Regions from separate parts of the Homo sapiens genome. Here region 2 is linked to region 1. The links come from fine-mapping of genetic effects on gene expression. Tissue or cell type: hippocampus. Region 1 holds a variant in brackets; the other region holds the start of a gene. All regions are shown on one strand. Distances are between the middles of the regions.

The links. PIP is the estimated chance that this variant, and not a neighbour inherited with it, causes the effect.
Region 2: it holds the start of AATF, and the variant in region 1 is fine-mapped to the expression of AATF in hippocampus (GTEx, PIP above 0.99).

What each region holds. Positions count from the first base shown.
Region 1 is chr17:36,231,324-36,239,428 of GRCh38, reverse strand. LOC105371747 (a long non-coding RNA gene) reads left to right here and starts at 1,622. Exons shown (of 3, transcript XR_934703.3): 1 at 1,622-1,880; 2 at 4,875-4,982. The variant G/A (reference allele first, on the strand shown) is at 4,789.
Region 2 is chr17:36,944,880-36,952,984 of GRCh38, reverse strand. AATF (apoptosis antagonizing transcription factor) reads right to left here and starts at 4,031. Exons shown (of 12, transcript NM_012138.4): 1 at 3,769-4,031; 2 at 2,580-2,771; 3 at 1-99. The coding sequence starts at 3,859.

The sequences.
Region 1 (8,105 bases):
TTCCTATATTGTCATTCTTCTGTAAAGAATTTTTTAAACTCTTTTTTTTTTTTTTTTTTTTTGAGACGAAGTCTCGCTTTGTCACCAGGCCGGAGTGCAGTGGTATGGTCTCAGCTCACTGCAACTTCCACCTCCGAGGTTCAGGCGATCCTCCTGTCTCAGCCTCCAGATTAGCTGGGACTACAGTCATTCGCCACTGTGTCCAGCTAATTTTTTGTATTTTTATTAGAGATGGGGTCTCACCATGTTGGCCAGGATGGTCTTGATCTCTTGACCCCATGATCCAGCCACCTCAGCCTCCCAAAGTGCTAGGATTACAGGCGTGAGCCACCGCGGCTGGCCCTATACTCCCTTTTTAAATTTTTTTTTTTTTTTTTTTTGAGATGGAGGTTCACTCTGTTGCCCAGGCTGGAGTGCAATGATGTGGTCTTGGCTCACTGCAACCTCCGCCTCCCAGGTTCAAGCAATTCTTCTGCCTCAACCTCCTGAGTAGCTGGGATTACAGGTACATGCCACCACACTCGGCTGATTTTTGTATTTTTAGTAGGGATGGGGTTTCACTATGTTGGCCAGGCTGGTCTTCAACTCCTGACCTCATGATCTGCCCGCCTCAGCCTCCTAAAATGCTGGGATTACAGGTGTGAGCCACTGCACCTGGCCCTTTTTTTTTTTTTTTTTTTTTTTTGAGACAGGGACTTCCTCTGTTGCCCAGACTTGAGTGCAGTGGTATGGTCATGGCTCACCACAGCTTGGACACCAGGCTGCCTCAGCTCACTGCAACCTCTGCTTCCCGGGTTCCAGTGATTCTCGTGCCTCAGCCTCTGGAGTAACTGGGAGTACAGGTGCTCACCACCATACCTGGCTAATTCTTGTATTTTTAGTAAAGATGAGGTTTCACCATGTTGGCCAGGCTGGTCTCAAACTCCTGGCCGACATGGTGATCCACCTGCCTTGGCTTCCCAAAGTGCTTCATATTGTTAGCCCTAATTCTAGTCAAATTCCATAGCGTTTTTCTTCTTTATTTTTATTTTTTTATTTTTGAGATGGAGTCTTGATCTGTCCCCCAGGCTGGAGTGCAGTGGTGTGATCTCGGATCACTGCAGCCTCCACCTCCTGGGTTCAAGCAAATCTCTGCCTCTGCCTCCTGAGTAGCTGGGATTACAGACACCTGCCACCATGCCCAGCAAATTTTTGTATTTTTAGTAGACACAGGATTTCATCATCTTGGCCAGGCTGGTCTTGAACTCCTGACCTTGTGATCCACCCACCTCGGCCTCCCAAAGTTCTGGGATTACAGGCGTGAGCCACCGTGCCCGGCCTGTATTAGATATTTTTAAGTCAGTTTCCTAAGACAATTAAATATTTCAGGTAGTTGGGACTTTTCTTTTTTTGGTTTGTTTTATTTTGCTTAATTTAACCATTTTAAATATGATTCTCTGGGAATTTTTTCTTCAAAATATAGAATATGTGTGCATTAGTTTGCTAGGCTTGCTGCAACAAAGTACCACAAACTGGGTGGCTTAGACAACAGAAATTTATTATCTCATAGATCTGGAGACTAGAAGTTCTAGATCACGTTGTTAGAGTTGGTTTCTTCGACAACTGTGAGAAACCTTATGTTCCATGCCTCTCCCCTGGCTTCTGGTGGTTTGCTGGTCATCTTTGGCATACTTTGGCTTGTAGGTGCATCACCTGGATCTCTGCCTTCATGTTCACATGGTGTTCTACCTGTGTGCGTATCTGTGGCCAAATTTCCCCTTTTTATAAGGATACCAGGCATATTGGATTAGGGTTCCTCTCTACTCCAGTAGGACCTCATCTTCACTAATTACATCTGCAATAACCCTTTCCAAATAAGGTCACATTCTGAGGAACTAGAGGTTAGAGTTTCAACATACGAAATTTTCTGGGGGGTGAGTAAGGGACACGATTCAATCCATAACAATATGTTTATGAGTAAATGAGTTAGTGTGTTATTGTCTTTCTGCCACCTCAGAATCTGAGAAAACACAGTTTCTTTTTCCATTCCTTGGGCTGTAGGTGGAGAAGGAGGAGGATGATGATGGTGATTATTTTTTGGTCATGCCCCATAATGTGACCCACTTTAAAAAACAACAAACAATTGTAAGGAGGAGAACTGTCATACACCTACTGCCCAGCTTAAAAATAATTAGATCATCTTCTTTAAACATAACTGTCATCCCATCATCACACCTAAGAAGTTGACAGTTTCCCCAGTTTTTTTTTTTTCTCTTTTTTTTTTGAGATAGGGTCTTTCTCTGTTGCCCAGGCTGGAGTGCAGTGGCATGATAGTGGCTCATGGCAGCCTCAGCTTCCCAGGCTCAAGGGATCCTCCCATATAGCTGGGACCACAGGGGTGCATCACCACATCCAATTTTTTGAATTTTTCTAGAGATGAGGTCTCCCTGTGTTGCCCCACCTAATTTTTTTGTTGTTGTTGTTCCATTCTTTTTTTTCCTCCTGTTAATCAAGGTCTGTATGTAGTTTGGTTACTATGTCTCTTAGGTCTCTTTTCCTTTATAGATTCCCCTCGTGATTTACTGAAGAAACGGGGTCATTTGTCCTGTAGAATTCTCAAATTTTGATTTTGCTGATATTATCCCCAGAGTGTCATTGACCATGTTCATCTGTTCCCCAAATTTCCAAAAACTGGTAGTTAAATTTAGGTGGTTGATCTGATTCAGATTACACTCTCAGTATCGCATATGCTTTGATCAGGAGGCATAATGTGTACTTGTGTGTGCGTATGTGTGTTTTTTTAGTGATGTTAGTGGTCACTGCCTGTGTCAGCATTTCACTACCAGGGTAATTTGGCAATGTCTGGAGACACACTGTCACAGCTTGGGAGAGGGAATGCTATAGGTACCTTCAGGGGTAAGAGTCAGCACAGCACAGCCCCCTAACGCAAAGTATTAATAGGCCTAAAATGTCAGTAGCCCTGAGGTTGAGAAACTCTGGCCTACTTTTGTAGTTTCATCAGGTGTTTGTGAAATGGTTTTATTCTAACTGTTATTTCTTCTTTCTTTGTTAGCTGGAATTCTTTCATAAAGAGAAACTCTTTGATCAGTTAGTTACCCAAGGTACAGTTCATACAGAAAAGGCAGGATGTATGTTTGATTCTTTCCTAGTTTTCAAAATAATGAATTAGTTTCCTAGCATCTTCCAAAATTGACCAATGAACTTTGTGTGTGTGTTTTTTTCTTTTTTAGTATATTATGAACTTACACGTTTTAACATATTTGTGTTTCCTTTCATCGCAGTTATTTTTATTTTATTTTTATTTATTCATTTATTGTTTTCAGGCAGGGTCTTAACTCTGTCACCCAAGCTGTAGTGCAGTGGTATAATCGCTGCCCACTGCAGGCTTGACATCCCGACCTCCAGCAATCCTCCCACCTCACCCTCTTGAGTAGCTGGGACCACAGGTACACCACCATGCCCAGCTAATTTTTGTGTTTCTGGTAGAGACGGGGTTTTGCCGTGTTCACCAGGCTGGTCTTCAAATCCTGAGCTCAAAAGCAATCCACCTGCCTCTGCCTCCCAAAGTGTTGGGATGATAGGCGTGAGCCACCGCACCTAGCAGTTATTTTTATTGGTGCTCGTTTTTTCCCTTCGTTGAATGCTGGGTGCAGTGAATGCTGGGTGCATCTTCATGTTGGGTTCTGAGTCCTTTTGACATGAGCACATTGTCTGGTGTTGTACGAGAGAGCAAAATAAGGAAACTGGTGTTCTATGCTTATCTTGTACATTTTCCCCACACTTGGAATCAGCCATTCCTCCAGGGAGTGCAGGTTCACAGTCTGGGCTCTAAGAGAATTATAAGGTCAATGTGGTCATCATCTTTTAGTATTAAGTCAGATATTCTAAATTATTATTTACTTCTTACATTTGGCCCAAGAGTTTAACCAGATATTTTGGGAAAGAGAGAAGGAATTAAATAAATAAATCTCATGGTTAGAACTGAAGTGATAACTATACTTTCACAAGGAAATATAACTTATAACCCATGCGGAATAGAAAATTATTTTTGCTCCTTTAGATTTCTGAAGGAATGAAATGAGCTGTGAGAAGAAACTTTAACTGGAGCATCTTACCAGTATTATTCATGTTTTAACTCTGCTTCAGTAGTTTTTCAGGTTTATTACAAACCTGCAGTAGCCAACTGAATTAATTATCTCTAAACAGGGATTTAGCCAGTGGACTAGGCACACTGAAGCTTTGTGAGAGGGGAAATTGATATTCACATTTTTTCCAGCTTGTTTTGAGCTCGATATATTCTTTTCTTTTTTTTTTTTTAATTGAGACAGACTCTCGCACTGTCACCTGGGCTGGTGTGCAGTGGCACGATCTCTGCTTGCGGCAACCTCTGCCTCCCAGGTTCAAGCAATTCTCCTGCCTCAGCCTCCCGAGTAGCTAGGATTACAGGCGCCCGCCACCACGCCCGGCTGATGTTTTGTAGTTTTAGTAGAGACGGGGTTTCGCTTTATTGGCCAGGCTGGTCTTGAACTCCTGACCTCAGGATCTGCCTGCCTCAGCCTCCCAAAGTGCTGGGATTACAGGCCTGAGCCATCATGCCCAGTCAATATATTCACATTTTTAATAGGAATAACAGTATACTAAAATCTTTTTTAGTGCATGTTTAAGATTTGAAGATGTAATTTGACTCAGTACTTTCCACTTGCATTTTTTTCTTCCACTTGCATTTCTCCACTATTAGAAAAGTGCCTGCTAAGACTATTCTAATACTTTATTATAGTTAACCCCTGC[G/A]AAAAGAGCTCCCAGAGCTTACAGTGCATTTAATTGATGTCATATGGACTATTCATTATTTTCTAAATTATTTTGTTTGTATAAAGCAATCTGAAGAGGATGTAAGTCAGTTTGATTCCAAGTTTACACGTCAGACACCTGTCGACAGCCCAGATGACGCAACTCTCAGTGAAAGTGCCAATCAGGTCTTTTTGGTAAGTGAAAGAATTTCCATGTAGTCATGGGAAATTTTAAGTATGAGGATGGGCTCTTCGATAAGAAAATTCAGTTTGCTTGCTTTGCAGCTCATGTAGGTAACCTGGCCCACTTTTTTTTTTAAATAAGCCATGCTCTTATAACTTATTGATACCTATAAAATTGATTTTCATAATCCAACATTTTATTTTAGCAATTAGAGTGGGAATGTACAATTCTTTGGAGAGTATGATTCCCTTTTTTGGTTGGGCCACAGACTTAAAATGATGTTTGGCTTAGCATCTCAACCAAAAATTAAGTCATAGCAGTGGGAGAGAAAAACCTCACTAACTACATGTATTTTATTCCTGAAACAGCTATAGATTTTTGGTACCTTTTTTTTTTTTTTTTTTGAGACAGGGTCTCACCTTGTAGCCCAGGCTGGGTGTAGGGTGTAGTGGTGTGATCACAGTTCACTACAGCCTTGACCTCCCAGGCTCAAGTGATCCACCCATTTCAGCCTCGTGAGTACCTGGACTACAGGTGTGTGCCCCATCCAGCTAATTTTTTATTTTTTTGTAGAGACAGAGTCTCACTATTTTACTCCTGGACTCAAGCTATCTTCCCACCTCGGCTTCCCAAAGTGCCAAAATTATAGGCATGAGCCATCATTCCTGGCCCTATTTTTGGTACTCTTAACATAAGTAGGGGATTTTTTTTTTTTTTTGAGACTGAGTCTCACTCTGTCGTCAGGCTGGGGTGCAGTGGCGCGATCTCAGCTCACTGCAACCTCTGCCTCCTGGGTTCAAGTGATTGTCCTGCCTCAGCCTCCTGAGTAGCTGGGACTACAGGCGCCTGCCACCACGCCCAGTTAATTTTTGTATTTTTAGTAGAGACAGGGCTTCACCATGTTGGCCAGGATGGTCTTGGTTTCTTGACCTCATGATCCACCCGCCTTGGCCTCCCAAAGTGCTGGGATTACAGGCATGAGCCACTGCGCCCGGCCAAGTAGGGGATTTTTTAAACCTAATTGTGAATATTTGACATCAAATTATATTGGTTCATATGTAATAATGAATTCTCATTGTAGAAATATCCGTATAGATTTATAGCTTGTCTCCTCAGAAAAGTGAAGGTTTTAGATGTTGGCCAACAGAAATGATGGATTTATATCAGATGACCATCAATGCATACATACTATTTTGCTTAAATACCATATATGCTTGTTGATTTTATTACTGTACTTATATGTCACATGAACATCTTTCTCATTTTGTATCCTTTTTTTTCTTTTGTCGTTCCTGTATGGACTACCTCTAGGGAGAATAGAATATGGGGAAAACAATTGTTTGGGAGTGGTTTTTTCCCTCTTTTTGAGTTCACTGGATTTGTCACTAACTTAATTCTATGCTTTTCTTCCCCACACTGCTCACTATATAACACAAGTAGTGTTGTATCTTATGGGATGGGAAATAAGCTCTAAAGTTAGCATGGAGTTGGGACATCGTGGCTCACGCCTATAACCTTGAGGTCAGGAGTTCGAGACCAGCCTGGCCCACATGGTGAAACCCCATCTCTACCAAAAATACAAAAATTAGCCGGGTGTGGTGGCATGTACCTGTGGTACCAACTACTTGGGAGGCTGAGGCAGGAGAATGACTTGAACCCGAGAGGCAGAGGTTGCAGGAGCCAAGATCGTGCCACTGCACTCCAGCCTGGCCAATAGAGTGAGTGAGACTCTGTATAAAAAAAAATTAGTTAAAAAAATAAAGTTAGCATGGAATGCAAAAGTTGTGTATAGTACAGTATGGTTTCAAGTAAACAACACTGAATAGTAATAATCCTATAAATTAGTAATATAGAGCACGTAGGCAAAATATAATCTTACAGTATTAATTACATAAGAGATAAAAGATGAGTGAGTGCATGCATGTTTTTAAATTCAAGTTTGATGTGTGCATGATCAAAGTTACGGCATCTCTGTTAGTAAAATCTTAGGTTCACTCAGGGAAGTGGGCATGGATCACTTTAATTTTGGCTTTTTTTTTCTCTTTCATGTACTACTGATGTGGAATTTATACCTTTGATTTAACATAGAGACCTTTTCATCAATTGAACATTGCAGAATTTCAACTTATGTGACAGTTTCCCCCCACAAAATAGAAGCATTTTATTTAGCTACCAAGAAATCCTAAGTTGTGGTGGTAAATGTGAGATATTGACGCTTTCATTGCCAGTTAAAGTATTGTTGAGCTTTTCATAATTACTTAAATTGGCTATAACTGATGAACAGAGCAACTCATTTGTTAGGTTGTAGCCAGAATTCTGTACATAAAGTGGGTCTCTTGAAACATTAGTAAAAACAAAAATAGGCCAGGTACAGTGGCTCATGCCTGTAATCCCAGCACTTTGGGAGGCTGAAGTGGGTGGATCACAAGGTCAGGAGTTCTAGAACAGCCTGGCCAATATGGTGAAACCCCATCTCTACTAAAAATACAAATATTAGCCAAGTGCGGTGGCACACGCCTGTAATTCCATCTACTCGGGAGGCTGAGGCAGGAGAATCACTTGAAACCAGGAGGTGGCAGTTGCAGTGAGCCAAGATCGTGCCAGTGCATTCCAGCCTGGGCAACAGAGCAAGGCTCTATCTCAAAAAAAAAAAAAAATTCCGCATACATAAGAAGAGAATATGCATTAAAAAAATCAGCAGAGCCTCACATTCCAGGATTTTCTACACAAGAAACCATTCCTAAAATATGTGCTTGGAATTACTAGGGTTTCTCTTGCAAACATTTTAATAACACCTCATTCGTTTTTTTTATTATAATATTTATTTAAGCAAAATTTCTTTTTTTAATTTTATTATTTTATTATTATTACACTTTAAGTTGTAGGGTACATGTGCACAATGTGCAGGTTAGTTACATATGTATACATGTGCCATGCTGGTGTGCTGCACCCATTAACTCGTCATTTAGCATTAGGTATATCTCCTAATGCTATCCCTCCCCCCTCCCCACACCCCGCAACAGTCCCCAGAGTGTGATGTTCCCCTTCCTGTGTCCATGTGTTCTCATTGTTCAATTCCCACCTATGAGTGAGAACATGCGGTAACACCTCATTCTTTAGGGGTGTGGTTATAT
Region 2 (8,105 bases), 710 kb before region 1:
GTTCCTCAGCAGCACCCAGGTCGTCCTCATCATATTCCTCCAGACCCAGTCCCTCTGAATCTTCATCTCCAGACCCTTCCTCATCAGATATTTCCTCATCTACAAAGAAGAGAGGGAAGAAAGAGAAAAATGGGTATTACCTGGAGAAAATACCAAGCCATAGACTTCATTTCAACTTAAGCACTGTGGCATCAGGGGGAAAATCTCTTACTGCACTCAATTCAACAATATATTTATTACACATCTACAATCTCCAAAATGCTAAGGGAGAAGCAAAGATGAATAGAACACGGGTCCTACCCTAACAAAAGGAGCTAGTGGGAAAGACAGACTCACAACATTACAACTCAAGGAAGCATCAGAAGTGCTTTGACAAAATTTCAATAACCCAGAAGAGTGAGAAATTTTAACTGTGGGGCAAGTGAATTTAAGCTAATCTCTAAGGAAGAGCTAGCATTTGCTCTGGCCCTTGAAGAACAGTAAGATTTCAACTGGTGTTAGAGAATTACCAGTTTTCCCAAACCTGATCTGAAAAAATGTACAATCTATCACATCCGTCTGCCCTATTTACTAAATACTTATTAAGCACTCATTATGAGCCAGGGGCTAAGGAAAGGCAAATAGAATTTAATACTTGCTGGGAGGAGTTCATGGTCTGGTGGGAGTGGTAGATATGCATGCCAATAATTATATTACAAGGTCATTAGTACACAGTGTATGGAGATGGAACCACCTAACTCTCCTGGAAAGGTGGGGGATGGTATCATGTGGAGAAGGAGACATTATAATTTTACTTATGAAGCATAAGGCAACAGCTCATAGATAATGAAGGGAAAACGCACTGGAGTGCAGGATGCACAAGGAAGTGATGGGAGATGAGACTAATCAGGAAAGGTCTCGTCTTTCATGAGGACTCTGAACTTGATCCTATAGTAGACAGAGTGCTAGTTAAGGCTCTTTGTTTGACTTATGCTTAGAGTATCATCTGATATGTAGAGGTTTTTACAGTTTATCCAATCTGTTCCATGGTAGAACATAAAAGCCCCATGTGTTTCAAGTATGATTCTAAGATAGAGGGACCAGTTTCCAAAAACTTTCTTCAATAAAATAAAGATTTTAGGAAAGCGTGACAGGTCTTCAGCGCTTCTTTAAAAAGGTATATATAAACTTAAGACACAAAGCTGCCAAAAATATAAATACAAAAACTAAGTGCCAAAACAGTAAACAGAAATTATTATTTAAATTCTTTGAATGTACGCCATTTCTCAGATTAAGAAACATTCATACAGAGTTTACTAGAGTGTACATCTTGGAGTCAGACAGCCTACATTTGAATCATGTTTCTTCCACTTACTAACTATATGACCTTGAGCAAACTTATGTAACCAATTTGCCCCTCGATTTCCTTATCTGTAAAATGGGGCTAAGTAGTAATAACTTCCTGCGCAATTGGGAGGATTAAATTAGGTGACACATGTAGTGATAATGGTGATAATTTTTTATAAAAATCTGTCTAATTCCAGGTAATTTTATAATTTTTTTTTTGAGGACTTACTGTGTCCCAGGCTCTTAGAACTTAAATTATAGAGCTAAACTCAGTGCCTGACGCATGGTAAGAACTCAATAAATATTATCATATTTGTCTCATGATTGGTCCCTTTATCAGTCTCTAGGCAAAGAATATGAAATGAGCTTATCAGGAGCTCCCAGAACTACATCAAGGACTAAATCATAGATATCATAACCTAAATGATAGTTCCTTTTATATTATCTGTGGATTCTCAACATGACACCCCTGACCTTTCTAAAGGAAAACAAATGACATTCTCCCAATAATCACCATATCTAGCCCCTTCTTCCACTCTGAGAAATTTACAATTCTTTAAAACTATAAGCGCACAGACTCCTAACTCTTTTGCAGGGAAGAGAAGGATTATGTGATTTTTTAGAATGGCAAAAAATGAGTTTCACAAATAACTAATATCACACAGTGCTTCAATGCAAGTCCTGGAAAACCAAAGGTCAGGGGTCACAATTCAAGGATAACATGTTCATCAGACACAGTGGTTTTTCAGCTCATAACCCTCTCCAGTAGCCAAAATGCACTGCCTTCTCTGTCACTCCACTGTAGGGTGAGCCATTAGTCCGAACATAAGGAGTATAGCAACTTAATCACTCTGGGCTTTAGATTCCTTATGAAGTGAAATGAAGTAACCTCTAAGACCCTTTCTAATACCAAATCAATGGTCTCTCCTAAGATAACAGATAGGGGTGCCTGACCAACATGGACAAACCCCGTCTCTACTAAAAATACAAAATTAGCCGGGCGTGGTGGTGCATGCCTGTAATCCCAGCTACTCGGGAGGCTGAGGCAGGAGCCTCGCTTGAACTCCAGAGGTGGAGGTTGCGGTGAGCCGAGATGGCGCCATCACACTCCAGCCTGGGCAACAAGAGCCAAACTCTGTCTCAAAAAAAAGATCCGCAGACTACTCTTGCAAAGATCATGGGGGATGACCGGAGGATTTTAACCCTGAAAAAATTAGGGAAGAGAAGAGTTCCATTCAAAAATGTCTACTCACCAGACGATCCTGGCAGAGTCTGCTCCCAATGGTCTTCATTCCATGCTTTTCTAGAGGTGGTTTTGCCGCAATACCTTTTGTCCGTGTCCAAGAGGGAGGCTGATGCCAGTTTTCTAATGCTACCCACTACTAGGAAATCACCTTCCCCATCTTCCCCTTCATCAAACCTGTCAATCACCCTGGCAGCAGTGGCTGTCGGGGGAGAGGGAAAAGTAAACAGAATCTCCAGGTTAGCAGAAACTTTAACGGGAACCCTGGTCGACCCATTTATCTCATAGTTGAACGTCCTTTACGAAATCCCCACCAACTTCCAGGAATAGGAAATTCACTCTCTCCCAAAGTAGAACACTGTCTTACTGCTGTTTCTAAACAGAAAGTTGACTCCTGGCATCTACTAGTGGGATCTATTTCTATGACTTGGATCCTATCAAACTAGTTGAATTCCTCTTCAATGTGTGACAGTCGCTCCAATATCTTAAATCAGTCATCACGTTCTCCCCTCACTCTGTCCCATTCTTTGGGGAGTTTTCTTTGCTTATTCTGGCTAAACAGTCCCGAGTTTCTTCAACTGATCTTCCTAAGATACGGTTCAGCACTCGCATTTATCCCTCCTTATTATCCCTTTCTCACACTTCCGACTCAAGTCTAAAGCGGGATTACTCCCAGCTAGACTCTGAACATCAGCTTACAGAACAGGAGTCTCAGTCGTCAGCCACTGAACAAGTGTCTTGAGACTTCAAGAGACTTAAACAGCACCAGAAAATCCTTCCATCAGTCTCCAACTTAGTTTTGAAGGGCAACCTGAATTAAAAACATGCGACTTTCTTCTCCTCCTTTCTAACGCAATACCAGAAAGGGCATCCTCAAAGCTAACTTCCAACTTGCTAGCAGACTCTCTGGCTCCCTCCAACAGGCCTGGAGCAAGTAAACCTGAAGACCAGCTCCTCTCGGCCTGAGCCCTCGATCTGTTCCGCCCATCCAGCCGAGCACCAAGTTTCGAGTGCGTGTGAAAAGAAGCCGAAGCCCTCCTCCCGAGGCCGGGACCACCCTCGCGGGAGGCGACGTTCCTCTGCGCCAAGCGAAGGAGCGCAGGCCCGGCGGCCTCGCGCACGCCCCTCCCACGCCGCCCCCTTGCCCCACAGGGCCTGGCCCACCGCTCCGCACGTGGCCTGCCCCAGTCCGGCCTCACCTTCCTCGGGGTCCGCTTCAGGGTCCGCCTCGCTTGGTCGCGGGTTCAACAACTGTTCCAGTTGCAGCGCCAGGGGCTGCGGCCCCGCCATCGTCACCAGCTCCCGGTCCACTCCGCTTCGCGCACGTAAATGTGCGGCCCAACCCCCGGCCCCGAAGCTCCTTCCCTGCCGGATCCTCTCGCCTTGATCCGATTCCCCGACTCCGCCAGAGACCGCGCGGAGGCCACCCCACAGCTCTGGACCGGCCACTTCCGGGAGGCGCGCGGGAGGGGGCGGGGCCTGCGCGTCACTGCGGGCGTTGCTAGCATGAAGGCGGAAGCGCGCAGAAGGTTGAAGGGATTGGAGCCGTATGGGCGCGTGTGCGCGTGCGCGTGCGAGTGCGCGGGAAGGGGCGGTGCGGAAGCGCGCCAAGGCACGTGACCGCTTCTGTCGCTGAGATGCGATTGCGATGCGCGCGGCCAGTGTCCCCTTGTACAAAATATGCCTCGAGATTTGTGCGAGATTCGCTTAGGAATAAAGCATAGCGTAGCCGTGGCCCACGGTGGCTGATTTGGGAAGGAGGAGGGAGTAGGGCTTAAGCTGCTCGAATCGCGGGTGCGCACTCGGGCACGCAGAGACTGGGACCCAAAGCAGGTTTGTCATTTCGCAATTTATAGTAGTCTGAGGCCGGGCACACGCCTCCCGCCCTTCAGCGGCCAGGATTTGGGAATCCTATGTCAGGGATATGCACGTGTAAGTGTGTGGCGGACTGCTGGCGTCTTTCTTAATGGGAATACTTAGGAATCGCTGTGGCTAAAGATAGTTTCAGTAGCGTCTCTAAGTACCCTTGCCTGAGCAAGGGAAAGGGGGTGGGGTGTGGATTACTCCACTGCATACCCCTCGGTATTGATTATCTTTGCTGTTCAGAGATGAGGGCATGCTCAGGCAGCTTAAGCAGGTGCACAAATGCAGAAAAATACAGGTCTACCGTTAGAGGGACAGACTCAAAATATAAAGACTTAATAGTATAAATGTAATTGCACCCCGCACACGGAAAGACACAATCGCTTTACATCCTCTTTCCTTCATCAAGCATTCCCTGACTGCCCACTATGTGGCAGGCACTGCTAGATAAGATACAAGATAAGTAAGTTGGATTCTCCCCCCCACGGTAATCAGCCTAGGAGGGTAGACAAACATGTAAACAGAAACTGCAATAAGGGATGATAAGTGTGACTACAAAGTGGTCTATTCTTATGGTATCTGTTGGAGGTTGCCTGTAGAGACCTAGACCCCTCTAAACAGAATCTGCCTCAAAAGGATCCAGAAAAGAGATGTTAGTGGTGCACTGTGGCAGTGCCCCTTGGGTACAGCCCGGGCCAGTTGGATCCCACAGCTGAACAACTGGGGAACCCTCAGCTCTCTACTGTCTCCCATGAAAACCAAGGGAAGAGAGGATCTCTGACTTTCACAATCTTCATATGTCCTCAGGGCCAAGAGCAATAAGAGGACACCACTTTAGTGGAGCCTGTTCCATGTCCCTGTAAAGTGGCCCTTGAAGAATGAAGACAACCAGGGCTGCAGAGGGGAAGGAGAACCTGTCTGAGGGTAAACCCCCTCAGACATGGAAGGAAAAGAATGCCAGGCTAGGCAGGGCACTCAGGAGAAGAAAACGGCTTTTTACCATCCATAAGAGAGCTTAGCCTAAGAGAACAGTTTTTCGTTTATCCTCTATAATTGCAGTCTTGTGCCTGTGTCCGGGCCTCCCAAGCAAAAGTGTGTTCCTTGCTCCTTGACAAGGTGCCATGGGGCTTCAAAGGACAAAAATGTTTCTCCCACCCCACATTTAAGAAACTACCTCCTGCAATCCTATCCCCTTGCTATGTTGGGTACTTACAATGCTTAGAAACCTGGCCTTTGAGGTAAAGAGAAGGAAGAAAAGAGAAAGGGAGGTGAGTCACTGCAGAGACCACCTCTAAGCTGTCATGCAAACAGGACACTGCTGGTCAATTTGGGGGCTGTGCTGGGCAAACACTCAGCAGAAAATGCCATAGACCTGTTTACTTACTCTCCCTTCTCTGTCCTGGTCCCTACTGACTTGGGAAGCCATTTTAGCAAGGAATCAAGACCGTTCTACTGTCACACACATCCCAGGGCCCCCCAAAATGTTTGCCTGACCTTATACTGAAGGTAGAAAGAGGACTCCAGGAGTGGAGGGAAGAGGAAGTAATTCTAGGAATTAAGATGCAACTGAGAGTAGTTGAGGCAAGGGACAGGGGAGCAAATTCTCAAATACTCCCTCTGGGGGCCTCTCCCTACCTGCATTCCAGTGTCTTGAGATGGTGGGGGAAGGGCTTATTGATGGGGTAGGGATGGAGATGGAGAGTGGACTGTGGCGAGGAGTTTCAACCTCTGACTGATGTAGAGATGAGAGCAGATGAGAGGAACAGGGAGAGGAGAATAAGGGTGAGCAGTTCCCTAACAGAATGGCCTTCTCCAGAGAAGGCGGAGGGGCGCCCAGTCCACAATCCCTCTCCCTGCCCTCCAAGGGCTGCAAAGTGGCAGGCGATTAGGCACAGCAGAGGATGGGCAAGGGGTGACACTTTCCAATTGTCCCAAACAACTGTCTGCTCACTTGACAAGGAGTTTCAAGAGTTTGGGAAAACCAAGTTCCCACTTGCCTCTCTTCAGATGCTGTCCACCCTCAGGTGCCAGCCCTGGCAATGCCTATCCTGGCTCTCCACAGGTAATACTTCCCCAAGTGCCTCACCTAGAGCAGCTTACCAGCGGCAGCCAGCCCGGAGAAGTTGGGTGGGTGAGCTTCAGCTCCCTCGCCAGAGCAGATGGTGGCTCCCTGCTGCTGGAACCCTGAAGGCAGGTGGCGAGAGGCACAGAGGTGGTGGCTTTAAGATGGCCACAGGGAGAAACCAGGCTGCCCTCCCAGGCGAGAGGGGACTGCAGTGGCGCTTCCCTCCTGCTGCGCCTCCTGCGGGAGCTCCGCCTAGGTATGGTGCCGCACGTCCCCGCACCTCGGGGCCAGAGGTGGGCGGCACAGCACTGATGGGAAGGAGAACAGGCCCTGACATTTCCAGGCCTCCTCCTTGGGGCCTTCGGCTCCAAATTTGACTGCTGAGCGTTGCCACCTGTTCGGGTTTTCGCCAGGATTCTGAATCCCGCGACGAGGGGAGAGACTGCGCCACAACCACGTTGTTAGAAGAATCGAATCCACATCGTGTGCCCAACTCGAAAACGCTTCTTATCAAATACCCCGATTGCACAATAAAGCTGCTAAATAATTCAGCAGCCTTGATAGGAAAATGCAGCTTCCCAGTGAGCGCAGTTCATTTAAATGAATGTCTTTAAAGGGGGCTAGGGAGTAGAGGCTATAATGAATAAGTTAGCTAGGATTTAATGTGTATAAATGCTAAAAAGGTAAAAACAAGCCGATCCAGTGATTGCATATAAAGCAAATAAAGAAATGTGCTGCATGCAGAGGCTGGGAGTTTCAAAAGTCTCCTCTGTATTTCATACATTTTTATTTCTGAAAGAACACTGCCAGATTCCTCCCGGATAGCCTCCTCCCCCATTAGATAAGCCATCATATGGATGCAGTGAAATATTGCTTATTTTAAAGCCTTCTCTGCAGGAAAGATAAACTTGGCTGTGTCTTAACAAAATTTGAAAACAGCACTGGAAATTATATACCATTTAATGTCAAACCTTTGACTTTTTAAATAAGGAAATAAATAATCCAGAGTGAAATCTAGGTGATATGGAAAAGAAATCCTGGAACTCTAATAGCATCTGATACTGAAACACACACACATCCACAAGAATATTTCATAGTAGATAAAATATTCAAATTTCTTCCAAGTCTAATGAAGGACTGGAAAGAATCGAGCTACTTTTAGAACCTTTTGAGTTGAAATTTGATTTTGATATTAGTTATTTTTGTTCATCTTTCAGAGAAACTTAATATGTATCTTGTGCCAGGCAAAATAGTTTTCCTTCTGGGGAACTTCAAAGGTAACAAATACTATAAAACAACAATTTCATATCAGTTCTGTGAAAGGGATTAAAGTATTTCATTTCTAGCTGTACTATACATTCATTTTACATTATCTTTCAAACCACCAAATTAGAAAGCCTTTACATTATCTTTCAAACTACCAAATTAGAAAGCCGGATTATCTATAGGAAATGAAATGAAACTGAAAAGGACCACCTCTAACTATGTATTACAAGTATCTGATACAAGCCCAGTTTTGCATGTGCAGGGAGAGTGAAAGAGGGAATGCCTTGGATCTTATGCCTAATCACAGACCTGGACCACTCATTTTTTAGCCATGGATTTGAT